Linked DNA regions of Homo sapiens: region 1 is linked to region 2. Evidence: fine-mapped expression QTL. Tissue or cell type: skeletal muscle. Region 2 holds a variant in brackets; the other region holds the start of a gene. All regions are shown on one strand. Distances are from middle to middle. Region 1 holds the start of PBX3 (PBX homeobox 3). Region 2 overlaps PBX3 (PBX homeobox 3).

Region 1 (15,408 bases), 75 kb before region 2:
GAATTCTCAAAATGAAGCAAGAGGTGGAATTACAGGTGCAGGGCTGGCTGTGGGGTGAACTAACTAGATTGTAGAGGGTGAAAGGGTAGGAAGAGAAGAGAAAAGAAAAGGAAGAGAAAAGGAATAGGAAGATGAGGGAAGCAGATAAAGAGAAAGGAAAAGGAAGAGAAGGAGAAAGAAGAAAGGGGAAGAGAGAAAAGAAGAGGAGGAAGAGGAGGGCAGAGAACTGAGGATGAATCTTGGGATGTGGAGGACCGGGAAGCAAATGTTAGAGATTTACCTTTTACAATGGACTCTCATATTCATTGTAATGATAGTTTTTACTATACCTCAGTGTGTTAAGTCTTTTTTTTTTTCAGATGGAGTCTCGCTCTGTTGCCAGGCTGGAGTGCAGTGGCGCGATCTCGGCTCGCTGCAACCTCTACGTCACGGGTTCAAGCGATTCTCCTGCCTCAGCCTCCGAAGTAGCTGGGACTACAGGCGTGTGCCACCACACCCAGCTATTTTTTGTACATTTTTAGTAGAGACGGGGTTTTACCATGTTGGCCAGGATGGTCTCCATCTCTTGACCTCGTGATCCGCCCGCCTCAGTCTTCCAAAGTGCTGGGATTACAGGCATGAACCACTATGCCTGGCTGGTAGGTTATTACTATTATTACTGTCATTGACAGATGAGAAAGCTGAGAGGCTAAATAACCTGACCGAGGCCAAGTAGCCATTTAGTGGTGGAGCTAGGATTCAGATCCAAGTTTGCCTGATCCCAGATGCAGAGCTCTTAACTACAGGGCTACAGTGCCTACAACTGTACTCTTTCTATGTTAGACCCTGGCTTCCTTATTAATTAGGATTAAGTTTGGCTGCCTGTACTGGAAATAAGTATATGGCAGTGGATTTAATAAGACAGAAGTTTATTCCTTCTTCTGTAAGAGCCGTGTGGAAGAAGCAATCAAGGGTTGGTGTTATCCCTTAGATGGTGGCTTCATGGTGCCACCCGTGCCCCAGGTTCTTAAGTTTCTGCTTCACTATCCTAGTGCCTGACCTCCACTCTCAAGATCATTTCATGGGCCAAGATGACTCCTGGAGCTCCAGACATCAACTACAGGCTGGGAAAAGGAGGTGGGGAAAAGGCAAAAGGAATTTGTCTCAATTAAATTAGGTTCCTTTAAGTAGGCCTCTTAGAAATGACAGTCAATTAATCCCAGTTAAAGGCATGGTGCCCAACTAGACTGCTTTCACTTCAGATGCCAGCCACAAGTTCTGAGGTCCCCTGGCCACCTGTACTTCTAACCAACTGGCTGAAAATGTGGGTGTTCCTGTGACCCCTTTAGGTTCTATAATTTGCTAGAATGACACAGAACTTAGGAAAGCACTATACTCAGCATTATAGTTTAATTATAAGGGATATAAACCAGGGCCAGTCAAGTAGAGAGGTCAAGGGCAAGAGCTGGGAGGGTCCTGAATGCAGAGCTTCCATGCTTTTCCCCATGGTGTCAGGGTGTATCACCCTCCTGGCACATCAATGTATTCACCAACCAGGAAGCTTTTCTGGGCTTGGGTGTCCAGAGTTTTTATCGGAGTTTCATTATATAGACATGATTGATTGAATCATTGGCCTTATGACTGAACTCAATCTCCAGCTCCCTCAAAGCCCCAACACTCTAATCACATGGTTGGTCTTTCTGGTGACCAGCCACCATCCTGAGTCATCACTTTAGCATAAAATTAGATGTGATCTAAGGGCCTCATGAATAATAAAAACACTCTTATAGCTTGGGAGATTTCAAGGGTTTTAGATGTTACCTCCCAGGAATCCAATACAAAGACGAGAGGAATTTTTTTTTTTATCATACATCATCTCCCCCACTCTAGGAGCTCCTACTATGTGTCGGGCATTGTGCTAGGCTATTCCATCCATCCATCCATCAGTCCATCCATCCATCCATCCATCCATCCATCCATCCATCCACACATACATCTGTCATATAAGTGTTTATAGTGCTATATCAGCTTTTCTGCAAGATACAGAAAACCCAGCCAATAGGATTTTAAAACAGGAGATGAATTTACTCACAAAACTAGAAATCCAAGGGAAAGCAGTTGCTTCTTTGGCTCAGATGTTGGACCATGTCTGCAGACACCTAGGCTCTCCTTATCTTTCTACCCCACTTACCATGTTTATTTTTGTTTTGAATGAATGTTTTATTTTATTTACTTATTTTTTTTTTTTTTGAGACAGAGTCTCGCTCTGTCACCCAGGCTGGAGTGCAGTGGCTCAGTCTCGGCTCACTGCAAGCTCCACCTCCCAGGTCGACGTCATTCTCCTGCCTCAGCCTCCCGAGTAGCTGGGACTACAGCCGGCTGCCACCATGCCTGGCTAATTTTTTTGTATTTTTAGTAGAGACGGGGTTTCACCGTGTTAGCCAGGATGGTCTCGATCTCCTGACCTCGTGATTCACCCGCCTCAGCCTCCCAAAGTGCTGGGATTACAGGCGTGAGCCACCGCTCCTGGCCCTGAATGTTTTTTTTTAAAGTATTTACAGATAAAAATTAGAAGGTGGTGGGGCCGGATGCGGTGGCTCATGCCTGTAATCCCAGCACTTTGGGAGGCCGAGGTGGGTGGATCATGAGGTCAGGAGATCGAGACCATCCTGGCTAACACGGTGAAACCCTACCTCTACTGAAAATACAAAAAATTAGCCAGGCGTGGTGGTGGGTGCCTGTAGTCCCAGCTACTCCGGAGGCTGAGGCAGGAGAATGGCGTGGATCCAGGAGGTGGAGCTTGCAGTGAGCCGAGATTGCGCCACTGCACTCCAGCCTGGGCGACAGAGCGAGACTCCGTCTCAAAAAAAAAAAAAAAAGAAAAAAAAATTTAGAAGGTGGTACAGAGAGTTCCCTAATATCCCATACACTATTTCCTCTATTATTAACATCTCACATTAATATGGTACTTTTTGAAATTAATGAACCAATGTGAAATGTTATCACTAACTGAAGTGTATACTTTATTCAAATTTCCATAGTTTTTTTTTTTTTTCTTGAGACGGAGTCTCGCTCTGTTGCCCAGGCTGGAGTGCAGCGGCGCCATCTGGGCTCACTGCAAGCTCTGCCTTCTGGGTTCACGCCATTCTCCTGCCTCAGCCTCCCGAGTAGCTGGGACTACAGGCGCCAGCCACCACGCCCGGCTAATTTTTTTAAAAAATTTTTTTAGTAGAGACGGGGTTTCACTGTATTAGCCAGGATGGTCTCGATCTCCTGACCTCATGATCCGCCTGTCTCGGCCTCCCAAAGTGCTGAGATTACAGGCGTGAGCCACCGCGCCTGGCCAAATTTCCATAGTTTTTACCTAATATCCCTTTTCTGTTCCAGGATCCCATCCAGAATGCTAGATTACATCCAGTCCTCATTTCTCCTTAGGCTCTTCTTGGTTGTGACAGTTTTTCAACTTTTCTTACTCTTTATGACCTTGACAGTTACAAGGAGTACAAAGACCAGAGAAATTACTGGCCAGGTATTTTGTAGAATGTCCTTCAATTAGTATTTGTGTAATATTTTTCTAATTATTGGTCTGGGATTACAAGCTTTGGGAGGAAGACCACAGATATAAACCACCAAACCATGTTGATTTTGTCTTCATATTTTCATTTCACTATCACAGGTGGCTGCTATGAGCACTCCAGATTCAGGACTACTTTCAAAGATGGAAAGAGCCAGGAAAATGAAGGAGAGAAGAGCCATGTCTGTCCCCTTTTTTTTCTTTTTCTGAGACAGGGTCTCGTTCTTTGCCCAGGCTGGAGTGCAGTGGCCAAATTGCTGGGATTACAGGCATGAGCCAGCACGCCTGGCCTATCTGTCCCTTTTTTAAAAAATTAGCAAGGTCACCCCTCCTCCTGACAGGCTCAGAAGGCAGGGGACAGGATGCTCATACTTGTTTTAGACCTTGATTGGGACTGAGCACATTGTCTTCAGAATAAAATCAGGCTTCTATTGGTGTAGAAGGAAGTAAGCCAATGGATGGCAGGCCAACAACTGGTCATGTCGGCCCCAACTGTCTATTCTGTATGAAACTGCACCGTACTGGGTGCTATGAAGGGACATAAGAGAGGGAGCATTCTACCAAATTTTTCTAGAAATTATACATTCTGATAAATATTCTCTTTTAAAGGCATCACTTTAGAAGGATGGACTGTTATCCCACTAAATCTTTGGTAACTCAATCAAATCCATCCTTAGAAGATAAACGTTGGTCATATGTCACATGTGCTATCAACTGTAAAGACCAATTCTAAAGAGTCATTCCTGTCTGGGTGCAGTGGCTCATGCCTGTAATCCCAGTACTTCGAGATGCTGAGGTGGGATGATCCCTTGAGGCCAGGAGTTTGAACGCAGCCTGAGCACCATAGCGAGACCTCATCCATACAAAAAAAATACAAAAAATTAGCTGGGTGTAGTGGTGTGCACCTGCAGTCTCAGCTACTCAGGAGCCCTGAGGCAGGAGGATTGCCCAGGAATTCAAAGTTACAGTGAGCTATGATCGCGCCACTGTACTCCAGCCTGGGTGACAGAGCAAGTCCCACTCTCTAGAGAAACAAATCAATGAACAAACAAATAAACAAATAGATAGTCATTCCTAAAGCAATGGAGCAATGATACATTTTGAAAAGAAGCATTTAGTCAGTTTCCCCAAAGTGACAAGTTGGAGAGTGTTACCTTTTCTTAGATGTCTATGATTTAAAAAAAAATCAAATCTGTCATATTATAGTCACATCTTACGACACCTTGCCCTTGACATTTTTATGACCTAGATGAGGAAACTAACAGAGGTGGATGGAGAACAAACAGTGCAAGACTATCTAGTATGGTAGTAGGTTATGTATTACAGGCAACATATACTGAGGGAGTTTATTTATTTATTTATTTATTTATTTATTTATTTATGAGACAGAGTCTCACTCTGTTGCCCAGGCTGGAGTGTAATGAGGCGATCTCACTGCAATCTTCTGAGGGAGTTTAGAGGAGACAAAGATCAGAGAAGACAGGCATCACAGAAAAGCTTCGGAGAGGTGGGACCCAATGTGGCTTTGAAGAATGGTCTGACTGTCCTTAATTTCCCTCCTCCCCTGCCTTGAGACCTGGATTCCTCTAATATAGCTGTTTATTCTCTCTTTATTAAGCACCTAGTTACTTATTTTCATTAATTTTTCAGTTTATCTGTTAAGGTCTTGTGATTTTTACTTCATAATCTTAAATAACTTTTAAAAAAATTTTAGGAGAAATGGTAGCACTACTTTGCTCAAGCTAGAGTGCAGTGGCTATTCACAAGTGTGATCATAGCATACTGCAGCCTCAAACTACTGCACTCAAGTGATTCTCCTGTTTCTGCCTCTAAAGTAGCTGGAACTACAGTTGCATGTCACCAGCCTGGCTAAATTACTTTTTTGCACAGTGTTTTATACGGTAGTCTTTGCAGCCACATAGATCAATATTTGAATTCAAGCTCTAGTACTTACTGGCTTTGTGGTCTTGTGGAAATTTCTTACTCTCTCTCATTCTATTTCTTATTTAATAACAATCCCAAGCAGGCTGTTGTGAGACTGTAATAAGATGAAGCAAGGGAACACAGAGGATAGTGTACCCCCAAAGAAAGTGCTCAATAATGGCATCTGCTGTGATAGTCACCCTATTGATGACAGAGGCAATGGTGATGTTAATATAAACTCATGGAAAGGGATGGCCATGAAGGAACATCTGCTTGGTTTTCACCACTTTGTCACTGTTAACTTTACATGAATGTCTGCTCACCAAAAGTCAATTTCATTTCCCTTGACATTTTAATAATCACTACCTTAGAAACAGCAAAGACAGACTCGGGTACTCAGGGAACTTCTGTTCTGTCATCTGTGAAGGCATCAACCTTGTGACTCAGATTCTTGAGCAGAGATCACGCAACATTCTACATGAGACACTGGCACGAGCACCAAGAGATCCTGGAACATCTGCAATTAGTTGACAGTTATATTGAGGCTTGGAAACCAGTCTAAAAAAGTTATGCTTTAAATCAACGGCAGTTGTCAATGAGCCTGTGAAGGAATCCTTGCTAGGGTCCTCAGGCTTCTACTGCAACTCATACTGATAACAACAAAAAGAGAAGCCTCCCAAGCAGAAGGTCAGTCTAATTCAATCACTTAAGGCAGAATTATGGTATCAAGTTTCCACATCACTGAATGACCATGGGTGTAGAGGAGTGTACCATAAAATAACTGTGGGTGTTAGACATTTAACAAGTTGTTTTATTCCTAATTGCTGGCATTTGCCTAACTGTTTTCTTAATTCTAATTTATGTTTTTATGTTCCAGTGTGTTTACACAGCCCATAGTTCCCAATTGCCTTTATTTGCTTAAGTGTTTCTTTATTTACTTTTTTTTTTTTTTTTTGAAAAGAAGTCTCACTCTGTCGCCCAGGCTGGAGGGGAGTGGCACAATCTCAGTTCACCGCAACCTCCACCTCCTGGGTACAAGTGATTCTCCTGCCTCAGCCTCCTGAGTAGCTGGGATTACAGGCGCCTGCCACCAAGCCCAGCTAATTTTTTGTATTTTTAGTAGAGATGGGGTTTCACCATGTTGGCCAGGCTGGTCTCAACTCCTGACCTTGTGATCCACCTGCCTCGGCCTCCCAAAGTTCTGAGATTACAGGCATGAGCCACCGGCCTATTTACATTTTTATATATGTTGCTTTGCTTACATAACTCATTGTTCGGAGTGGGCTAGAAATAACCATAAATCCCCATTGCTAATTAGCCTCATCCTCATGACTGATTAGTCAAGATTATGAGTCTAGAAGGAGGGCAGAGAGGAGTCCTAATAGTGAGTCACAGGATTATTGAATTTTACAGCTGGAAGGAATCTTAGAATTTAAGGCATCTTTCAGTTAGAATTCTGTGGTTTTGCATCCTCAGCGTTGGAGAATTATGAAAGGTTGACCGCTTGCTCCTGCGCCTTTTGGCAAAAATGCTTAAGAATTTGGTGACAGCTTTAAAAAACAAATTAAGAATAAAGAAAAAACCCAATCAATGACGATTATAAGTAACCCATAATGGGGGCTTCAAAGAAGAATTGGAAACTTGACATATCAATGGGGTATAGAAGAGCAGAGAATATTAATGAACATGAAGGGGGTTCTTCTTTGGAGGTAAGTAAGCAGAGTGGATTTTTTGGAACTCCCTCCTCAGCAGCTGTGCAGTTTGTAAGGATTTTAGCTTGCCTAACTGTAAGCTTAGCTATTAGCTTTGCAGTGGGGAGTATTTAAAAGTACACACAACATATGAAGGAAAGAACCTGGAACCGAGTAGCCTGCTTCATTCCAAGAATCCATCTGGCATTTAAAGAACTGCTTGTCCTACATTAAACCCTGCAGAGTAAGAGCCATTTTTCATATCCTCATACCCCTATTTTTGGTTTCAGGTAAGACAGCTTACTGAGTTTGGAGAAGGAACAAAGAGACTTTTCCGAACCACCGAACCAAAGGACTCATCTAGGGTGAGCTCAATGAATCTAAAATCGGGAACACACATTGCAGCCCCTGTTTGGGAAATCAGCTTAAGAGCAATCTCAAGTCTCCACAAGAGGCGGAGGTCCATATTCCAAAATAATGTGAGCCTTCAGTTATTTGTAGGTAGAATTCAATGGAAGAAGGGGTGTTATAGATACGAAAAATCGTGGCTGGCGTTACCAACATTAAATGACTCGTGGTGATGGGGTAAGTTGACAAGTGAAATCCAGTCTCTTCCTAAACAAACGTATCTTTGTAATGAAGAGCTCGTTTTTGCAGCTTCAGTACATCTGGAGGCATCGAATAGCAAACGCTGCCAAAGGAGTAGTCCCTGGATTATCAGGAGTTGCAGAGTGTGTAAAGTGTTGTAAACCTTGAAATTAGTCCTGGACTGAAGGCACTTTCCCTCCTCCCAGACTCGCTTCTCTCTGACACATTTCCCCTTTCAATGGAAAGTCTATGGCAGTCAGGTCCACTCAGCTCAGACTTCAAGTATGTGAGACCACAGGTTCCCACCTTAACTGGTCACCCATTGAGGGACAGCACAAGACCCCGGTGCTGGCGCCAACGCTGAGCTGCGCCCTCTCGGTTACCATGGCGACCGCAGGCGGGGCGAGGCCCCCACTCGCCGCTTCCCCGCCTCTGCCCAGAACCTTTCGAACGCTCCAATTGGGACGACCCTTTCTTGCCTCTGTCCCGCCCCATTCGGCTCTAAGCGCTTTGCGATTGGCCCGGGACGAGCGGCCTGGTACCCAGAGGGCACCACCTCCTGACAGGAAGAGCGGGAAAGTGCACCAGGAGCTGTCCGAGGCGTGAAGCTCACGGGCGCGGCGGGGGAGCACACGGTTGGCTTTGCAGCGAGTTGCCCACTGTCCCATACACAACCCCCCGCTCCCATGACTGCCAAAAGCATGGAGCAGGAGTCGGGGTGCGGGCACACCGTTTGTGGGCCGGCCCGGTCTATCCCGGGGGGCTAGGACGCGACGAGGTTGGAGCGAGGATCCGGCGGCACACTCCGGAGCGCGGAGTATCAGAGGCCAGAGGGAACGGGCCGGGCCCCGGGGGCGGTGCCGGCGGCGGCGGCGGGAGGCGCAGAGCCCAATGAGCGCGCGCACCGCCCCGGGGGCGGGGTCTGAGGAGCGCTCCCCCGCCCTTGCCAGCCCCCGTCCCTCCCCCCGGCGCGGGGCCGCAGTGAGTGAGTGGCACTGGCAGCCTGTCAATCCCTCGGCCCAGCGGCCTTCCAGCCCGGTCCGCGGCGGCTGCTGGCTGGGTGCGCGGCTCCGGCGGCGGCGGCGGCGACTTCTCCCGCCCTATCCATCGGCTGTCCGCCCGGCGCGCGGCCCGCCGGGGCCCTCCTCCGGGCTCAGCGCCCCCGCCGCCTCTGCCCGCCCGCTCCCAAACTTTCCTCCTCCGCCCCCCCTCGCTCCCCGCGGCCCGCCCGCAGGCCTCCTCCTCCGCCGCCGCCCGCCGCCGCCGCCGCTGCCTCCCCCGGGGCCGCCGGGGCTCGGATCCCGCCTGGCCGAGGCGGCGGCGGCGGCCGAGGAGGGCAGTGCGCAGGCTGGCGCGGGGGGCGGCGGGCGTCCCGGCAACTCGGCGGGCGCTGAGGAGCAAGTTGCGCGGGGCCGCCCGGCGGGGCGCGCGGCGGCGAGGAGGCGGCGCGGCGGCCGCGTGAGGGCAGCGGGCGCCGCCGCCTCCGCCTCCGCCACCGCCGCGGAGCCCGGCGCTTCCGCCCGCCGCTTCTCCTCAGCCTCGGCGGCGGCGGAAGCCGGAGCCGGGCGCCCGTCCTCATCGCCTCAGCCGCGGGCCCTGCCGGCCGGGCCGCCCCCTCCCCGCGCGGGCGGGGAGCGCGCGGCCGCCTCCCCCTCCCCCTCCCCCTCTTTCTTCTCCTCCCTCGTCGCCGCCGCCGCCGCCGCCGCCTCAGCCTTCGCCTCAGCCGCCGCCCGCTCCCGCCCGCGCGCGGCGGGATGGACGATCAATCCAGGATGCTGCAGACTCTGGCCGGGGTGAACCTGGCTGGCCACTCGGTGCAGGGGGGCATGGCCCTGCCGCCTCCCCCGCACGGCCACGAAGGGGCGGACGGCGACGGCAGGAAGCAGGACATCGGCGACATCCTCCACCAGATCATGACCATCACCGACCAGAGCTTGGACGAGGCGCAAGCAAAGTTGGTGTCGTCTCATTAAGCATCTTTTGTGTGTGTGCGGGAGCCGGGCCCGCGGCCGAGTCGAGGCCCGGGGTGGCGCCCGGGGCTAGGGCCGCAGCCCCCGGCGGGGAACTTTCTCCGAAAGCCGGCCGCCCGCCCCGGCCTCGGGGGGACTTGCCCGCGCCCCCCGAAGCGGGCGGGAGTCGGCAAAGTTGCTCTGGGGGGCTCGGGACGGACTCGGTGCGGCGCGGATTCCGTGGCGTCCTTTCCCCCGTCCTGCCCCTCGCAGCCCGGCCCCCTCCCAGGGATTTAAACCTCCCGCCCCGACCCCGTGCGGGCCGCGCCGCCGGGAAGTGTAACTTTCTCCTCCGGCGGGGAGTCCCGGCGCCGGCTCCCGCGGCCGCGGGACGACCTCGCGATGCGGGCGGCCACCCGGGCCCGGCGCGGGGCGATGGGCGGTTCCCTGGCGGGTCCGGGTGCGGACGGCCAAGTTCTCGGAGAGGGAGGGCCGCCTTGCAAACTTTGCCGAGCTGTCACCCTCCCGCTGGCCGCAGTCGGCCGGCCTCCTCTGCACAGGAGCGGACGCGGGAGCCCCTCCGCACCCGTCCCCTCCCCCGGGTCGCCTTCGCCTGCCCCCGGGGCGAGGCTCCCCGCGCGGGTTCGCGTCGCGTCTGCAGTGGCCGAGGCTGCTGCCTGCCGGGCAGATGGGTCCGCCTTGTTCCGGCTGCAGCTTTCGCCGCCGGGGCTTGCTGGCTGTCGGGAACTAGTCAACTGGAGTTTTTGTTGACTTCCCACGGTTCAAAAGGGCCTTCCAGAATGGGGGGCTGGAATTAAATCTTGGGTCTAACTTAAAGGAAGGCGCCATATTATTCCATAGGTGATGCTAATACCTTTGTGTTTCGTTATTTGTTTTTTAGGAAACATGCCCTGAACTGTCACAGAATGAAACCAGCGCTCTTCAGCGTCCTGTGTGAGATCAAAGAGAAAACAGGTAAGACGCTGCGCCCCGCAGTGGGCCTGGAGACCCCCGAGGTGGGGGTCGGAGCTACTCCTTCGACTCTCCAGTTGAGAGCTGCTGCTTTTGGGCACCGCCATCTTTGATCATTCTCTCCTTCCCACGTCCTGATCTTGAGAAAAAACTGCAATAAATCTGGAGTCAATTTCTCAGTTCTGCTCCTGGTGTAAAATGAAGTGTAGGTGCGGACCGGGCTGGATCGCCGTCCCTCGGCGGCCGCCCCTGGCTGCAGGCGGGGAGGGGGCCCGGAGCGCCAGCCGCCCTCTTCCCTCTCCTTTCGCCTTGTTTGTGTGTCAGTTTTTAAAAGGAGCAACGGGAGACTGGATGCCAGGACCGAGTCCCCGGGAGAAGCATCGCCCGAACTTTGTTTTACTTAGACAGTCTTAAGCTTCAGCTGCACGGATAGAAGAATAGATGCAATTGAACAGACCCCAGTAGCATGCTTGAATTAGTGTTTTAGGTGGGAAGGCTACTTTAGAGAATCGAGGAAGGGTAATGATGTGTAGACACATACGATGTATTACATCTGTTAATACTTGTATTATTTTGTATTCTGAAGTCATTACACTTGTAACTGTGCTTAATATATAAAGTATAAAAAGGTCTACAGATGCAGGTTAAACAATTTTGAAGTGTCCAAGTCAGGGAATATATAAGAAGATAGGTTTTGCAGAAGTGCTGGAATGAAAACTACAGGTACATATTTGGCAAATTTTTGGCAATTCGTTTCAGTTTAACTTTCTTGTCAGACTTTATTAATTGAAGGTCTTTCAGTCTTGACGTGAGGTAACTGCTCAAACTGAAGCAGAGATTTGGATGTTTTAGTTTGTATTTGGCATTATCTTCCCTGTATGTGGCAAACAAGTACATTAAACAAGCTCTACTGTTTATTTTTTTCCTGTTCTTTTCTTTCTTTTTTTTTTTTTTTTTGGTGTGTGTTGGATGTATGGTATTTTAAAGTTGCCATTTTGAAAGTTGAGGCAAAGGAGAAAAAGTTGAAGTCCAGGATATAGCACTATCCAAGGGAGGCTATTTAGAAGGTTACATGTGATTGTGTTTAAATTGAGTGTACAAATAGCACAGTGCAAATAATTGTTAGGTTGATAGGCGAGTCAGCCTTCTTTGAAACAGGTTTTTCGCTTTGCAATACTATTCTGATCCTAAAAGTAATCAAGAAAAGATGATGAGTTATTGCTGTCTATTAAATATATATGCTAAACCATAATAAGCAGCAAATAATAAGGGAGGCCAAAGAGTACTTTTCCTGGTTTTCATTCACATATTATGGCTGGTTTCTTAATGCTCAGTGATCCTTTCTTGAATTACTAACTTTTATTTTGTGTTGATTTTTAGCTACCTTTAGAAAGCGTTTTGATTTAAAGCAGTAGATAATTTTTATCTGACTGTAAAATAAGACATCTAGCATTCAGTCTTGAAGATTCTTAGTTTAGAAGCTTAAAAGTATGCAATTCTCAGTAAATTCTGATGCTTAGTGTCCAAGGGTTTTCCTGCTATCAGGGCTCCACTTCAGTTTCTGCTGACAGCCAAGCACTGGGGTATTGACTATGTTGTGAATATTAAGATTGATTCGACTTTATACAGCCTTATATTACTAGGGAGAGGGGATGGATACTTATCGCTTCTCATCCCCTTCTCATTATTTGTATTTATTTATTTATTTTTGCCTTTTTAAAGTTTTGGCCTAGCTAGCTTGAGAACTAAACCCAGCAAACTGCTTTTCATGTTGAGACATTTAGCAGCAGGCAGAATTCAATTAGGAAGCATAAGTCCTTTAGTTGCTTATTTGCACAGGACTTAGTTACACCATTCTGAAAGGAAAGTATAGTCAACCACATGTCAAAGGTGAGTTACGAAAAAGAAACAAATCTTTTCAAAGTCTGGGATTACTGGCAGAGAGAGCTTTGGTAGGGCTATTGCTATTTAAAAACCAAGAGGCAGCTGACAAAAGAAATTTTTGTGTTTTAAAATTGTTTCTGGGGCTTTCAGTGATAACTTGTAAATTAGATTCTCTTTTTGTGCTTTGGCCAGTGGATCCACATTTGCACGTTATCTCTTTTGTAAAAAGCCAACAGCCGACAAAGAGTAAAGGCGGCTGTCTGGGTAGAGGCATCTTCCTGCTAGCCTCTCTAAGCTCGAGAGGGATGGGATTTAAGTACTGAGTGATTGATGGGGGTGAAGCTCTTTCTCTTCTTTCCATTCTCCCCTACTACCCATAGCTTCACCTCACTCTCCAAAACTAGTCTTAGAATGAGACAGGGACTCAGAATCCTCAATTCGAAATAAAACAGCTGTGTAGACATTAGTGTTACCAAAGCAAAGAAAGCGGGGCTGCAAATTCCAAGCCCCCCCACTCCTGCTTCCATAGTCGGTCATGCTTTAGAAACATGAACTTATAAAAGAAACATTGTAGAATATATGTATATTGCATAAATATTTTTTAAAAATCATTTTATTTAATCTAATAATACCTAAAAATTAATTCTTTGTAATTTAGAGAAAGTTTACCTAGTCATTTATGAATAGAAACCAGAAACATTATGTTGATGACTCTATTCTGCTTAATGAAGGGGGTTGAGGGTGAACTGTCATTTCAGTGGATAATGTCATTTCAGTTGTGCTTTTCTTCTAAAACAAAACAAAATCATTTTAAAAAAAATCTGTTTATTTGTAGCTCTGCCAGTGGATTTTGAGGTTTCTGATCAGGCAGTGAACACTGCCAGTTCTTATGCACATGGGGGATTTAGTTTAGAAAACATCTGTTTCCCCCTCTACCATATATGAAAAGGTATTTTTCCCTTCTGACAGATAAATGGGTAATCTACTACAATTATATTATTTTCTTGTTGAGAGGTAAGGAAAGTATACTTCTACTATAAGATGCTGCTTTTTCTTGAGAATATATTCTTTCGTAAAATTGATCATACCATTATTTTTGGGCAGAAATGTCTCTCATTGTTGAATTGTGATATTTGTGCATTTTGAGAGCACCCAAAAAGTTGTAGGCTTTAAAATAAAAATAGTTGTTTATTTTAAACCAAGTAACCAGTGAGATTATTGTTGATATGTTAAGATTTTTCTCCTGATTTTTAAAGCCATATTTTATCATCTGTCTCTTATTAAATATCCCTGATGCCACAAGGTCTGCTCACCTGCATACCTCTTTTGGTGTATGCCCCCACCTCTTTTTGGTCATCTTAATCTTAATTGTTGAAGTGCTTTCCTTTGTGAAATATTTCATCCTGAAAAATCTTGTCTTCTTTCCAAAGCCCTTAATTGTGCGAGTTTAAGTGAAGGAAATAGTTCTTTTTCAAGAAAAAAATATTTATTTTTTAAATGAAATCCCACATTTTAGTAGATAATATGAATCACATTATTGTGAAAAATGTTATGCATGAAAAAAAATAAACACAACCTTTTCCTTTTCAAATAATAGGTTAAAATACTCCATGTTGATGGCTGCCAACCAAACTCTGATTTATTGCCACCACAAACCCTAAATAGCGTTCATTTACTAGTAATGTCTAATGGCATACATGATGGTTTGCCAGATTTGTAGCCTTTGTGAGGCTTATAAGTAGGACTGACTTGGGAAGATCATAAAACTTAATGAACTTCTCTACTGCAGGAGGTGTCCGCAGGGGAAGAGAAAGGCCTGCTTGGTTGGTTGGGCTGGTTGAAGTATTTTTTATGTTTAAGGAGAAGAAAATGACTAGTAAAAATGCCTTACTTTTAAAGGAACCCTCCCTAGAAAGAGTCATAAGAATTTTAGATATTAAAACTAGATCAAGAGTATAGTTTACAAGTGAGGTTTTATGTGCATTTAGTATATGATGTGAGATTAAACCTTTTATCTTTATTGCTAGAAGTGTGACTAGCTTTCAAAGAGACAAGGCAGTACTGTCATTCGACACCTCTCTATTTAATTGTGAACCCACAGGTTTAGAGACTCTTTGGAGTCTTTTTTTGGTGTGCTTCTCTTTTTAAGGTTTCAATATAAAAATCTGTTACATTTTTCTTTGTACAGTGCTGTGTGATTCTTTTAATTCTACATATGTAAAAATCAATTTTTTCAAGTGAAAATTTAGCAAGAAAGGTGAAAATTGTTATATATTAGTCTAAATGTTATTATATATTTTGCATATGCTTTTAAGTTGCTCTTGCACTATTTCCAATATAATTATCATCTTTTGTTTCAAGTTTTAAAAACAAATGCACTGTTCCATACATGATTCCTTTTTGTGTTTTCATGAAACACATTTTGTTTTAATGAACTTATTTTCAAGATTTTAACAACTTTTTATTGTGGACACCTTTGAAACATAACATGCAGAGAGCAGAGACTCTTGAACCTCCCATGAACTCAGTGCCCATCTTCAGCAATTAGCAATACTTGGCCAGTCGTGTTTTCTCTGTAATTCCCACCATTCCAAAATTATTTTGAAGCAAATTTTAATGGTTCTTTAATGTTTTAAGTTTCATATCAATTTTAAGCATTAGGTCTGCTTATATTGGAAATATTAAGTGATTAAACAGGAAAAATACAAAGTCAGAGTATCTTGGAAATGTTATAAATTATATTGCTTTATCAATATATTTTTCTTAACTTAATATTTTACCTTTTTTTTTTTCTATTTTTATAGATTTGGTATCTTACTGGAGCTTTTGTAGGAGGTTTTCAGAGAAG
Region 2 (15,408 bases):
CTAGGACATTAGTGCATACTACCGCACACTTTATATATGATGTACACTTAGGCTATACTAAATTTATAAAAATATTTTTATTTCTTCAATAAGTTACCCTTAGCTTACTATAACCTTTTTACTATATAAACTTTAATTTTTAACTTTTTGACTTTTGTAATAACACTTAGCTTAAAACACATTGTACAGCTTTACAGAAATATTTTTTCTTTACACCACAGAGCATTCAGATTTTTTTTTATATCCGTATTCTATAACCTTTTTATTAATTTTTTTTACTTTTTAATTTTTTTTTGTTAAAAACCAAGCCAAACACACATTGGCATAGGCCAATGTGTAAGTAGGGTCATGATCATCAAAATATCAGTAGGTGATAGGAATTTTTTAGCTCCTTTATAATCTTATGAAACCATCATTGTATATGTGGTCCATGGTTGACCAAAACATCATTATGCAGTGTATAACAGTAAATGCAAACCCCAACTGTAGTCATTTAAACGCATCAAGATATCTTTTATGTCATATAACAAGACACCCAGAGGATTACAATTTGATTCAGTAACTCATTAATGTTGGAACCATTGTGTTTGCAATCCTTCTGGCCAATGAGAGCCCTTCAGGCTGTCATCTGTGTCTTTTTGACATGTCACCATTATTCTTCAAGCAGTTCCTTATATTCTGGTATGATAAGATGTTCCCAGCTTATCTTGTCTTTGCCTTGTCCTAGCCCTGGAATCAACCGTTTCTTTAAGTATACTTGGTTCCTTTTAGTGGATAATGACATTGAGAAAACAAGATTTGAGTGTAAGTTATGCTCATTGCTATTAGGTATCACTGCTTCTGAATCTACTCAATGAAAAGATCTAGAGAAATACATACATAAACACGTATGTCGGCCGGGCACGGTGGCTCATACCTGTAATCCCAAAACTTTGGGAGGCCAAAATGGGCAGATAACCTGAGGTCAGGAGTTCAAGACCAGCCTGGCCAACATGGTGAAACCCTGTATCTATTAAAAATAAAAAATTAGTTGGGCATGGTGCGCCCCTGTAGTCCCAGGTTTTCAGGAGGCTGAGGCAGGAGAATCACTTAAACTCGGGAGGTGGAGGTTGCAGTGAGCTTAGAGATCACGCTATTGCACTCCAGCCTGGGCGACAGAGTGAGACTCCATCTCAAAAAAAAAAAAAAAAAGTATCCTAGGATCAAAGCTAGCAGGTTGCATGTTCCCTTCAAAGATGGGTACTTTCATATTTGACCTAGTGTTCTCGCAGTTATTATATTTTTCTATACTTTGAAAAGTTACTACCCTTGTTAACTCTAACTTTGTATAGATTTTAACTTGTTTGTTCCATCTCTTTTTTTTTGGAATGGTACAATGCCAGTAAAACTGTAGAATGAGACAGAATGGATCCAAATTGTTCCAAACTGTACTGTTCTATTTAAGATGAGTGCCGTAAGTGCTGTGAGCTACATATATACATTTAGATCCCAGGATTTTTAGTTCTATAGAGTCATTCTAGAGGATGTGAATAGTGAAAATGTTTCCCATTAACAGATAGATGCAATTCTAACTATCTGAAAATAACCTAGAAAAAGACCTGCTATCTGGAACAGAAATGGAGAGACTACTTTTGACTGCCCAATGAATAACATTCATGATTATTGACCAGTACTGGATCAATTTAGCCTCAAAGACCATTGATCATGCTGTATTCTTAGAGCTGTATTGGCCTTTTACTTCTCCACAGAGGCACAGATTATAGTCAGTTTGGCATTCGTTTTTAATTTTATGAAGAGTGTTTTAAATTAAAACCTATCAGATCACTCTCCCTCCTTTGAGACATTAATGTGGTCCTTATATAATTAAGCCATCCACCATTCAAGCCGATTAACAACTTCCAGAATAGGAATTTGAGGTTGAAAACACTATTCCCAATTGCCATTCTTCAGCCTGAAGGATTAGGGAATTACAGCCTCTCATTTCTAACTCATCTTTTATCAGAATTCTGAAAGATAAAATCTTCCTTATTTCTCAGTTCCATTTCTTTTTCCTTACTTGTATGCTTAGGAAGATAATTTTTCCTCACAACCTGAAGAATTATGTCTATTTTTTTGAAAGACTGAAAGAAATCAGACTAAGTAGTCAGATTTTCTGTCCTTCAGGGTAACTTTCTGGGTCAATCCATTTTGAAAAGAATATTTTTCAACTAGTTAGCAGGTAATTTTAAATTATAAAAGTACTCTCCTTGCACAGTTGAAAAAAATGTTGTAACCTCTTGCTGTTCTTCTCCTTCCTATAGTCCCACTCATCAGAGAAGACCACATTTCATCTTTCTCTTTTTTGTTTTCTTGCTAGTTACCCACCATAAATTTAAATAACTGAAATTGTTGACTGTATATCATTTTTCCATGGTAAGGAATTTGGCTTATTTATATAATCTCCCACATAATTTCCTTCTCTTCCTCTCTGGTTTTGTTGTTGTATTATTTTTTGTTCTGCTGTAGGTTCCTCGTATAACATAAGCAATGTGTTCTCTAGCTTTGATTCCATCAATATCAGACTGTATTACTTTACTTTTATATGAAACAGGAGGAAATTAGTACTCCCTTCTTTAACTGTTGTACTTTTGATATTACCTCTTAATTATTTTTGGAGAATGGTTGTCTGACTTCTCCTTTGGGCAAATGTTCTTTGCAGTGACTGGGTGTGTGTGTGTGTGTGTGTGTGTGGAAAATGTGAGGAGGGACCAAATTTCTCAGGTGTTACTCAGACCTTCTTTTAATTTACTGCCCCATTTCCTGTTGCTGTTCTCTGTCCAAGGTTGGAGCCTCTGTCAGTCTTTGCTGGGAAAACCGGCTCCTACCTCCTTCTCATTGTAGATTTGGGCCTCCTTCACTGTGATGCACTTGTCATTGTGGTGTCTCATTTGTTATCTGTGTTACAGAAATTTATCAAAATCTGGTCTTCTTCAGCCCCACCCCCTACTCTTTCTCTCTGCCTCCCTCCGTCTCTCTCTCTCTCTTTTTGTTTTTTGAGACCGTGTCTTACTATGTCACCTAGACTGCGGTTTAGGGGTGCGATCATGGCTCACTGCAGCCCCGACTGCCCGGGCTCAGGTGATTCTCCCACCTCAGCCTCAGGCGAGGACCACCACGCCTGGCTAATTTTGGTTTTTGTTTTTTGTTTTTTGTAGAGACTGGGTTTTGCCATGTTGCCCAGGCTGGTCTTGAACTCCTGAGCTCAAGTGATCTGTGTGCCTTGGCCTCCCAGAGTGCTGGGAACACAGGTGTGAGCCCCTGCACCCGGCTCTTCCCCCTTCTCAATGGTATACCCTTTACAGTCCTATCAGAGGGAAACTGGAAAGGAAGAATGGAAATTAAACATACATACTCAGTCTGCTCTCTTGAGCCAGAAGATCCAGAGCGATGCTTGCTTTTTAGTTGTCTTCAATTGTTATTGAATATTTCTATGGTGCTTTTACATTGTTCGGAGTGATTTTATCTGCTTAATCTTCATAACAACCTTTGATTTAGGTGGAATGTATATTACTCTTGTTTTACAAATTAGGAAAGTGAGGATTAGAGCGGCTAAGTAAGGGATTTACGGATGGTCACTTGCCTGAGTAAGTTGCAGAACTGGGATAGAGATTAGTGCTCGAATCTTCCAACTCAGGGTTCAGTTCTCTTTATATTATACTCTTTTGACTGGGGAAAGGGTTGTGTCTGTCCTCAAGTTTTAGTCTGTCTCTCTTTTTTGTGTGTGTTTGTGTGTGTGTATATACACAGAACATTTCAACACTGAAATTGCTTGGCAGTTTCATGGTCTTTGTGCCATACCTTCTTTAACATAGAATCCCAGTTTAATCTTTTTATCCTTTACCAGTTCTCTTCTTTTCTTGTAATGTCTCATCATTTAGATTATCAGATGATTGGTCCTTTTTGACTATTTTTGGAGACACCAGAGTTCTTATATGGTTTCATTTTTTTCTGCAGTTAATGTATCTGTGCATGCGTAGCTGATCTTCACCTTGTTAAAAGGTGAAACAATTTTTTTAATCAACATTTTTTGCTTCTTAGTCTTTCCAAAATCAGTCATGAAACTAGAGTGAAGAATTATTCTGTGTTGATAACCTCAATAGAGTAAAGAATTGGTCTGTGTTAGCACTGGTCTGTAAAGGCTACCTATAAGTAGTTTGGTTTTATCAGTGTGACTAGTTTCTTTAAAGTAGATTAGAGATGAAGTTTAGATACAACACATATTGAATCACACAGATTTGTTGTTTACTTCCAATACTTATTTATTAGGTAAAAATAAACCTATAAGAGATCTTCTTCAAGAGTATTTGCATCCCACATTCCAACACTATTCAAAGCCTTATTTTCCTAGAGATCTTGGAGGTGGACTAGAGGTACTTGTGACTTATGTGATGATGTATTTTTTTGCTTATAGATTAATCCACTGGGGTTTGTGCGATAGATACATGTCCCCTATTCTGAAAGAAACACACACACACATTAATTTCATTGAGTCTTTCTTTACATTCATATTTGCTGAGTTGCACAACTCCAGGTTGCATCATTTATAATACACTTTGATAACGGTGCATTCTAGAATTGTGCACAATGGCTACCCCACTAAACTAATCTAACTAAAGAACTCATAGAATGTAATTTAATGAAATAATTTTAAGTTTGGGAATTTTCATTCAGCTTTGATTCTAACTCACTGTAAAGTCTTACATCTTATTTTTTTTGTCCTACAAATCGAAAAAATACCATCTGCTCTAGTACCCACTTACCTCACAGAAAAGATTTGTTAGATTTTTAAAAAATTGCGGTGGAATTCCTTGGAGATAAATTCTTGTGAGTATAGCGTGCACCAGCTGTAGATGATGGACCATTCACAAAGTATATTATAAATGGTGTAGTATTGGCTGGATGCGGTGGCTCACGCCTGTAATCCCAGCACTTTGGGAGGCCGAGGCGGACGGATCACGAGGTCAGGAGATCGAGACCAGACTGGCCAACATGGTGACATCCTGTCTCTACTGAAAATGCAAAATTAGCTAGCATAGTGGCTCACACCTGTAGTCCTAGCAACCTGGGAGGCTGAGGCAGAAGAATAGCTAGAACCCGGGAGGCGGAGGTTGCAGTGAGCTGAGATGGTGCCACTGCACTCCAGCCTGGGTGACAGAGCAAGCCTTTCGTCTCAAAAAAACCAAAAAAAAAACAAAAACCAAAACCAGATATAGTATTACCAGAGAGTTCCTGCTCATAAGTATAAAAACATTTCTTACTTAAGTTATGAAGTTTGAAAATGAGCCTTACATACATAACCATACTTTTTTTTTTTTTAATTTGAGACGGAGTCTCACTCACTCTGTCACCCAGGATGGAGTGCAGTGGCATGATCTCAGCTCACTACAGCCTCTGCCTCCTGGGTTCAATTGATTCTCCTGTCTCAGCCTCCTGAGTAGCTGGGATTGTGGGTCTGTGCCACCACGCCCGGCTAATTTTTATTTTAATTTTTTTTGTATTTTTAGTAGAGACAGAGTTTCTCCATGTTGACCAGCTGGTCTCAAACTCCTGACCCCAAGTGATCTGCCTGCCTTGGCCTCCCAAAGTGCTGGGATTACAGGCATGAGCCACCACACCTGGCATGATGAGATTATTTTTTTAAAGATATATAGAAACAGGGTCTTGCTGTGTTGCCCAGGCTGGTCTTGAACTCCTGGGCTCAAAAACCTGCCCGCCTCAGCTTCCCAAAGTGTTAGGATTACAGGCGTGAGCCACTGCACTCAGCCTTGATGAGAATTATTTTTATTATTTTGAAGATGATGATGATGATGATTATTATTATTATTTGAGACGAAGTCTTTCTCTGTTGCCCAGGCTGGAGTGCAGTGGTGTGATCTCGGCTGACTGCAGCCTCCGTCTCCCAGGTTCAAGGAATTCACCTGCCTCAACCTCCCGAGTAGCTGGGACTAGAGGTATGCACCACCAAATCTGGCTAATTTTTGTGTTTTTAGTAGAGATGGGGTCTCACCATGTTGGCCAGGCTAGTCTCGAACTCCTGGCTTCAAGTGATCCACCCACCTCGGCCTCCCAAAGTGCTGGGATTACAGGTATGGGCCACTGTGCCTGGCCTGATAATTATTTTTAATCTCATACTTTCTAATGTATAATTCCAAATCTAAAACTATTTTTTTACTTTTTAATTTTCCAAAGGAACATTAATTTTTATTTTTAAATTTTCAAGGCCAGGCGGGGTGGCTCACACCTGTAATCCCAGCACTTTGGGAGGCCTAGGTGGGCGGATCACCTGAGGTGGGTAGTGAGACCAGCCTGACCAACATGGAGAAACCCTGACTCTACTAAAAATACAAAATTAGCTGGGTGTGGTGGTTCATGCCTGTAATCCCAGCTACTCGGAAGGTTGAGGCAGGAGATCACTTGAACCCGGGAGGCGGAGGTTGTGGTGAGTCAAGATCATGCCATTGCACTCCAGCCTGGGCAACAAGAGTGAAACTCCATCTCAAAAAAAAGAAAAAAAAATTCAATTCTAGCTATAATAGATCAGCTGAACTATATGGAAATGGGAAACGTGCAAATACTACTGATATCTTCCCTGCTTGTAAGAAGAGGGTTTAGATATAGATATGGGCAAAGCTTCATTTATGAATAGATTTATATATCTTCAGTGTACATATATATCCAGTGTTTTATATATATATAAAACTGGTGTTTTATGTATATATACACAATGTAACCCTGTACTCTTCACTTTTAAGTTTATTTTAGTTAGAATCTTTTAATACGAAAACTTAGAATATGAAATAGCAAAATACTACAAAAGTTGAAAACAACTCTGAGCTTTTTTGTGAATATTATCTTTTTTTCTGCCACATTTAATTAGTTATCTTTTTTGTATTTCCCATGTAAATTTTATTTCACATTCTTGGAGGATTAATATGGAATTTGTATAGATTTTGGAAAAGAAATTTTAAAAAACCCCAAAGAAATCTATTCCTATTCATTGTTTCTTTCACCTGGATCTCCTAGTACCTATAAATGGGTGCATGAAAACGTTTGCACTGCACTGAATTGAAGTTTTTACTGTGGGATTGAAAGAAGCACTGTGAAAAAGATGAAGAAACAATTGACCACACTGGATCTGTAGCCCAAGCTATTAGTTTAGTCTTAGTGTAGTCTACTCTGAATTTTGACTTACTGGATATTTAAGGTCTCTGGTTATTCCTAACAGACTGGTTGGCTTTGCTTCACCCAAATAGATTGTGGTGTGAAACAAGACACTTGATACCG[A/G]GATTAAGGAATGTCTCATGACAGTGCTTGTTTCTATTCAGCACTCCCCTCCACTTTAAAATTAACTGTTTAGGGCTTAAATGAAATGGGTTTTAAAAGCAAGACAAAACTTTGTTCTCGCTCCCTCACTAATAAACCTGTAGCATCTCACAGTAGAAAAAAGTATAGTGGGACTTACTGGCACCATGGTGCACAGCATTGAAGAATTTCATATTGTGACAACACATCAAAATAAATTGCTGTCAACAGACCAAAACACCAAGTGCTGTGATTCTGTCTGACGTGTGAAGATTCAGACAGGCTGTCTTGACAAGTTGTGGTGGAGCACCTGCATTTGACAGAAGACAGTGATATAAATCTGATTTGCCTGATACGAAGCACCTAGATATAGTTAATGCTGGTGACAGTAAGTCTGCATAAAATTTCCAAGCTGCAAGTCTGACTTTATTTTGCCTCTATTAAGTAGTAGTATTTTTTTGGTCACATTTTGATTCTCACTTATTTTCTATTTGTATTTGTAGTGTGGCCTTGAAATATAATTATGAGTTGTAAACTCTGAAAAATGTGACAAATTAATGTTTTGTTCAGTCTTTTTAAAAGTAGTATTGCAAAAGGCAATACTACTACAGTTGCTCAAAGCAAAAGAAAAGCAATGAAATTTTATTTTATACTAATCATAAATGTAATCATAGTTTAGGTTGTATTAATTTTGTAACTTATAGCCAAAATATTGAAAATAGTGGGTTAAAAGTCATGAGTTCCTATAAATCTCTCAAGCTGCGTTTGCCTTTAAAGCCTCCTGAAGAGGTAAAATCACTGAATTAGGTGGTTAATTTTTTCTTTTCGTTACCAATAAATGATAACTTTTTATAGTACCAGTATATATTACAGCTCATTTAAGAATGTGTAAAACATATCATAGCTCTGGAGTTTAATTATAGAACTTTATACGAGCTTCTCTGTTTCAGTTCTTCATACAACCACAGATACTAGAGACTTCATTCTGACAGTGGTAAGCTAATAAGAAACGCATAGAGGTATAAATTTCAATTACATTTTTCTAATTGTATCTTAAGATTTAAGAGATACTAACAATGGACTTTAGTTGAAAGAAAGAATCTTTTTTAAAGGAAAGGATTAATATAGGGGATTAATTTTTAAAAATGGAAATGAAGACAAGATCATATTAATTGTGTTATTTTTTACTTTTCTGTAGTAACTAACTTGTTGGTAGTATTTCATGGTAAGATTTGTTATTGTCTAAATAAAGAAATCTATTTGGTTTTCCCAGATCTCAAAGATGCTACTATTTCTTACCGAATTTATTGCTTAACTCATTTGAAGATTAGTTTCATTTTATCACCAATTGTTGCTCTGGTGGTTCCCCTGTGAAACACAGTGAAATAATTCAAGGATTCTCAAATTTGAGAAATTTTGAAATTAGCTCTGTCCACTATATAGTTTTAAAAAGTACAAATTATTTGTTTCAAGTTACTATTCATTCTTGACTGTATTGTTGTTTTACCCCTTAAAGGCTGCTAATGAGAAATAGAGCCTCATTATGATTTTAAGGATGAGAGAGGAAGGCTTTTAATTAATGATATGTAAATGGTCTTGAATTGATTATGTTAGAATATCAAGAGAGATGGGTAGAAGCTGTGGTGTAATATATTTTAATTAAGAATTAATTAAAAATGATGGCAATTTCATAAAGCCTCACAGAAAATAGTGGAATTTACTTTCTGTCAGGAGTAAATTAGCCTGTGATTAAATAAAGGGCCTGCATTAATAGTGGAGTTATTTTTAAACTGTGCTATGAAGAATTATGTAATTTTTCCTAAATAAGTAAAATTAAAATTTAATATTTAAAGGTGGGTAGTAAATGGTGGCAGAGAGCTAACTTATTTTTATGACTCAAATATATTGTTTCTTCTTTATAAAATTTTGTGTAAATATTTTTAACCTCAGCATATACAGCATATAGCTTTAAAAGAATGGACTTTGTCTGTTCTATTGCCCATTTGGCATTGGGGATAAGGAATGCTCTTACACGTAGCCATGGCAGTGGTTTTCCTCTTGTACACAAGATCTGGGAAAGATCTTTACTGATGACTGAAAATTATTTTTAAAGGAGGTACTCTTCTTTTTTTCCCTGTTCTCCAGAGTTTAAAAACGTTTCTTCCTTAGATGTGGTTTTTCATTGTAAATAATACTCTTTCTTTAGAAACTCTAAAATGTGTATATTTCTTTACGTTGAAACCTGAAATTTCCCTGAGCATACCGTTTATTCAGACTCAGACTACACTATTTTTATAAACATTTTTTTCCACTAGTTTAGAGAAATGTTTTAAAAGGAAACTTGTCTTTGAGTTCAACTTGGATTGTAATTTGAATGTAGAAGAAAGGCTGCATAATCCAATCAAAGCATATATTTCATTAATGTTTTTTGTACATTAATACAGGGTATCTCAGTATAGTAGCTTATTATATTGAGTTATTATTTAAAACCCCACATAATACATTATGATACCCTCAACCTTAATTCAGTACTTCATACTTGTGAAACACCCCATAATGAGTAGTTGAATTTTGGGATTTTATGGATCATCCATATCAATAGTTATATAACTTGTGGGGTTTTTTAGTTTTTTTGTTTTGTTTGCTAAGTAGCTAAAAAAAAAAAAAAGATGTGAGTTTTACTTTGTCAGAACCTCCCACCATTCATTAATTCTCCTAACTCACCTATGTTTGCCTATTTAGCAAGTATGCCTCTTGTATGTGTAAGTTTGTGGTATGGTCATATTTGATGACGCTTCTGTGGTTCTTGAAACTCCAAAATACAGTTGTGGGAAAAGTGGAGAAACGAACATTCTCTGGTTCCCTCTGCAAATGCTGACCATTGCTGTTGATTATTGACATTTTCAAATTTACTTCAGTCACTGTAATATATAAAAATAAGCATCACAAATAAAAGTTGTCATGACCCTGTGAGGAAATTGTTGTTGATGTGCTATTTAACTTTTATTTACCTGTACATGCTGCTCAGAAAATGGTTTTTATGTACCAGTGTGTGTTATGCTGTTCATTGAAGTATTACCATAGCAACAGTAATATCTCTTGCTTTCATCTTAATGCTGATTTCAAGATACAAAGATAGTTTTTAAAAGACTGAATTTAACATATATAATGTTAATATGGTCCTTTTTAAGGAGGATAAATTACTTTTTTTTTTGGTAATAGTGTTAAATAAAGTTTTAAAGGCTAAATAGTCTGTTAGTGCCTCAATGAAATTTCTGTGTTAGCTACTTTGGATCAGTCTCCTTTTTTAAAAAAAGAAAGAAAGAAAGATTAAAAAAGAATTCTGTATGTTTTTATCTTGGGGTTTAGAAGACAGAAAAGAATGGTTAAGAGAAGGAAGTACAGATCCAATGGGAAACAGTTAAAAGATTTGGAACGTGTTTTGACTAGAGAAAAGTAGGCTAGGCTGGGCGCGGTGGCTCATGTCTGTAATCCCAGCACTTTGGGAGGCTGAGGTGGGTGAATGACTTGAGGTCAGGAGTTCGAGACCAGCTTGGCCAACATGGTGAAACCCCATCTCTACCAAAAATGCAAAAATTAGCCAGGCATGGTGGCCCGCACCTGTAGTCCCAGCCACTCAGGAGGCTGAGGCAGGAGAATTGCTTGAACCTGGGAGTCAGAGGTCGCAGTGAGCTGAGATCGTGCCACTGCACTCCAGCCTGGGTGACAGAGCAAGACTTTGTCTCAAAAAAAAAAAAAAAATGTAGGCTAAAGGGTTAAAGGATTTTTATGAGCTTGATGCCAGGTGTTTGACCTCTGTATACAACTACTATTATTATTTTTAGCTTTATCAATAAAGGATGAAACATAAGGAAGTGTCCTGAAAGTGAAAGTAAGAAAGATTGTGGTTTGATTTGTAGAGGGGCTACGTAACCACTAGAGTGAAAAATGACTGGTCCGTTTGTGAGTCTCTGTACCTGTTGATCTGTCTTGGGTGTGTGCTAGATATGCCTGGAATGAAGAATCTTAACCAGAAGCATGCTCAAGGGCCTGTCCACAGTTCCGTTATTCCATGATGCCTTATTGATCCAGTATTTCAAAGGAAAGTATACCTTTCTTTATTATGAGAATGCATATTTAATTAATTTGTTGTGCACAGGACACTTAGGCTTCTCATTGCTGTTTTCCAGGTGTCTCAAAGGACAAGATAACTCTAGTCTCCAAGGTATATTGTAAGTCTAGTCCTAGGCCTTCCTAGTTTATAAGGAAGTTAACAGGGTCTAGAAAGATACAGTCTTTCAGACTAACAGGTTCTTATTGATTGTATTAGAATTTAAATTAGAATCTATATGATGAATTACATTTGATGAATCAGTTGGCTTTTTTTTTTTTTTAAATACTCATTGCTTACTAGACAGTGGGGGACAACAAAGTCTCCAGAAATGGCTGATCTCAGCATTGCTATCTGTAGCCGCAGCTGTTGTTATGTAACAATAACGATAGCTACCATTGACTGAACGTTGACTGTTTGCCATGCGTTGTGAAAAGTGCTTTACATGCATTAGTTCATTTAATCCTTGTATCAACTCTATGATTTAGGCCACTGATTCTCGGACTTTTTGTTTTCAGGATCTCTTTCCATACCACATTTAAAATTAAAAATAATTGAGAATTGCCAGGCATAGTGGCTCACGCCTGAAATCTCAGCACTTTGGGAGGCTGAGGCAGTGGATCACTTGAGCTCAGGAGTTCGAGACCAGCCTGGATAACATGGCGAAACCTTATCTCTACAAGAAATACAATAATTGGCTGGGCGTGGTGGCATGCACCTATTTTCCTAGCTATTCAGGAGGCTGAGGTGGGAGGATAGCTTGAACCTGGGAGGTGGAGGTTGCAGTGAGCTGAGATTGTGCTACTGCACTCCAGACTGGGCAACAAAGTGAGACTCTGTCCCCCGCAAAAAAAAACAATTATTGAGAACCTAGCAAGCTTTGGCTTATGTGGGTTATATTTATTAGTATTTACTGTATTAGAAATTTAAAAATTTTATTAGTTTATTTTAAAATAACAATAACACGTTAGCATAAGTATCATTTTAAAATAAAAAACAACTTATATTTCCAAAATAAAAAATTAGATGATTGATATTGTTTTACTTTTTTTTTTTTTTAACAAATTCTTTAATGTCTGGCTTCAACAGCTGTTTTCTCATATTTCCTTCTGCATTCTGTTGTGATGCCATGCTTCACGTAGCCTGTTGTCAACTTCATTGTATACTCATGAACAAATTAGAGTTAAAACAGAAAATGTGACATCTTAATGAATTATGAAAACAGTTTTGACCTTGCAGAGCCCTGAGGGTACCTCAGTGACCCCACGGGTACCTGGGCCACAGTTTGAAAACCACTGATTTAGAAAGTATCCTCATTTCATCAGTAAGCATCACTGTGTACTTCTGCTATCCTGTATTGCTAACAAGTGTCCATTTTTCTTTTTTACTCTCAATTTTGGCATTTAGAGGATCAATTCATGATTGTGATATCGCCAAGTTTAATGTAGTAGCTTTGTTTAGTTTAGGAATCTTATTTGGGAACTTGCCTAGAATGTCCTGGAAGGAAGTCTGTTTAATTTTGCATTGGGAGATACTTTATAAATGTTAGCTGTGGGTGGCAGTTTTCAACCAGTTAAATTCTACCATTATCTTTGAGAAAGGCAATAACGTTAATATTTAACTAGTTCCAGAAGTTAGGATAGAACATTTAATTCCAGGAGAAAACAGCTAAAATTGCCTGTAGTGAATAGAGATTCTCGCCTAGTAAATTCCTTTATTTACCACAATCTTACCAGGTTCTTTTGAGGCATGATTTTTACCTGTTTTAACATTTTTCATGGCTCAATTATTTTACATATAGGATTCTTTGAAAAAGAAGTGCTTCCTAACTTTAAATTCAAATAATTTATTTACTATTCTCATATCTTGATTATTTGTCACAAATGATATAGTAATAACCTTCCTTTCTCTTCAAAATGTTTTTATGTGAAGTTCAAACAGAATTGAAAATCAGATAATATAAGTCTTGTCGACTCTAGCTTGTCTGGAATATTCACAAATTAATGAAGGGTCATTGGTGATTATGGGATTTTTTCCTTTGAAAATATATCTAATGAATACATAAGATATATTTCATAAACATAATATGGTAATGTCACTACTAAGTATTTAGACAGTTCAGCTTATTGGGTGATGACACACACTTTTTTTCTTTGAAAATATATGCATAAGATATATTAAATATTTGAAAAATATAATAAAGGTAATGTCAGTACTAAGTATTTAGATGGTTCAACTTATTGTGTGATGACTTTATTCAGAAGAGTGGATTGCTCTGACCCTTAATTATGGACATATTTTTTAATTGACACATAATATTTTCTATATTTATGGTGTACATGTGATATTTTGTTGCATGCATAGAATGTGTAATGATCAAGTCAGAGTATTTAAGGTATCCATCACCTTAAGTATTTATTATTTCTCTGTGTTTGGTAACATTTCAAGTTCTTTCTTCTAGCTACTTTGAAATATACCACACATTCTTGCTAACTGTAGTCACTCTACCCTGCTATCAAACATTAGAAATTATACTTTTAATCTAACTGTATGTTTGTACCCATTAACCAATCCCTCTTTATCCACACCTCCCACCCACACCCCTCCCAGTCTGTGGTGTCTGTCACTCTATTCTCTACCTCTGTGTGATCAACTTTTTTGGCTCCCACATATAAATGAGAACGTGAAATTGGGACATAACTTTTAACCCAATAAAATTATGCAGTATATCAATGAATGTATTTGAATGAATTATTAGTGGTAATTCTGAAGTAAAGACCCATGTAGGGTATATGGACTTTTTGCATTTTGATTTTTGCTTATGAAATATTTCAAACACATAGCCTTTTATTTCTTCCTGTTAAGTTTAATAAATGTTAACATTTTGCCATCTCTGCTTTAGACATTTATTTTTAAAAAATATCCATTTACATATGTTTGAAGTTTCCCCATCCGTTCAGCTCACTAACTTCCCCACCCCAAATTAGTACCTATTTATCTTATGGTTGGTACATATTCTTCTCATGTGAAAAATGCTTTTACTACACATACGTGTATTTACAAATAATGTTAGTATTTTTAGTATTGACAAATATAATGTGTATATATACACATATGTAATACCTATGTGTCGTATATACACACTGTACATCTTTTTGTAGCTTGATTTTTTGCTCACCAGTTTTCAACATGTACTGCATTGATTTTGATATCCGTGAATTGATTTTATTAGTTTTACCTGCTTTGTAGTATTCTACCGTGCAGATGAACTTCACATTCATTTCACTACTGATGGATGCTTACATTTCATCTGAAATTTTGGTATTATAAACATGCTTGTACACATATTTTTGTCCATATGCAAGAATTCCTCTGAGGTATATAACTAGGAATAGAGTTGTTGGGTTTATAGAGTATGTGTATATCCAACTTTATCTGATGTTGCCAAATTGCTTTCCAAAGTGGTTGTACCAATTTATATTGCTACCAGTAATAAGACTGATACAGAGGTTTGTTCTGGAACTACGCATTTTGGAAGGATCAGAAACTAAATTCATCTAGGACCTTAGTCTTCTGTGTCCTTATTTGCTGGATACAGATATTAGTAGTCCTTAGGTTTGGACTTTTGCTGGATATAATGATGTGTATTTTGTATTTTTAGGAGTACTAGTTTGCTGTCCAGAGGATTTACTTTGAATTATTAGTAAACCAACAAGATAAACACAGAAGTCATTCAGTTAAATACATTTTCATCACATTTTCATTGGGTAATAATTTTGCTTTTGACCTATCAGATCTGAGATATATATACTCAGAGATACTGAGATATATGTACTGCCTAGACAAATTTTCCATAGTTTACAGCAACAAATGGTTTATATAGAAATGCTATATTAAAGTATATTTTTATTTGTTAAACATAATTTATTAGGAATAGAACAAAAACCAAGTCACAA

What was found. PIP is the estimated chance that this variant, and not a neighbour inherited with it, causes the effect.
Region 1: it holds the start of PBX3, and the variant in region 2 is fine-mapped to the expression of PBX3 in skeletal muscle (GTEx, PIP 0.97).

What each region holds. Positions count from the first base shown.
Region 1 is chr9:125,737,945-125,753,352 of GRCh38, forward strand. PBX3 (PBX homeobox 3) reads left to right here and starts at 9,429. Exons shown (of 9, transcript NM_006195.6): 1 at 9,429-9,709; 2 at 10,606-10,679. The coding sequence starts at 9,510. It overlaps PBX3-DT (PBX3 divergent transcript), which reads right to left and starts at 7,985. Exons shown (of 2, transcript NR_122032.1): 1 at 7,472-7,985; 2 at 5,810-5,993. RefSeq lists silencers at 8,524-8,953, 9,204-9,253, 9,264-9,793, 10,064-10,403.
Region 2 is chr9:125,812,989-125,828,396 of GRCh38, forward strand. All of the region lies in intron 2 of PBX3 (PBX homeobox 3), which reads left to right. Among named protein-coding and RNA genes, the nearest start is that of PBX3, 73 kb to the left of the region's middle. RefSeq lists an enhancer at 8,176-8,225. The variant A/G (reference allele first, on the strand shown) is at 7,324.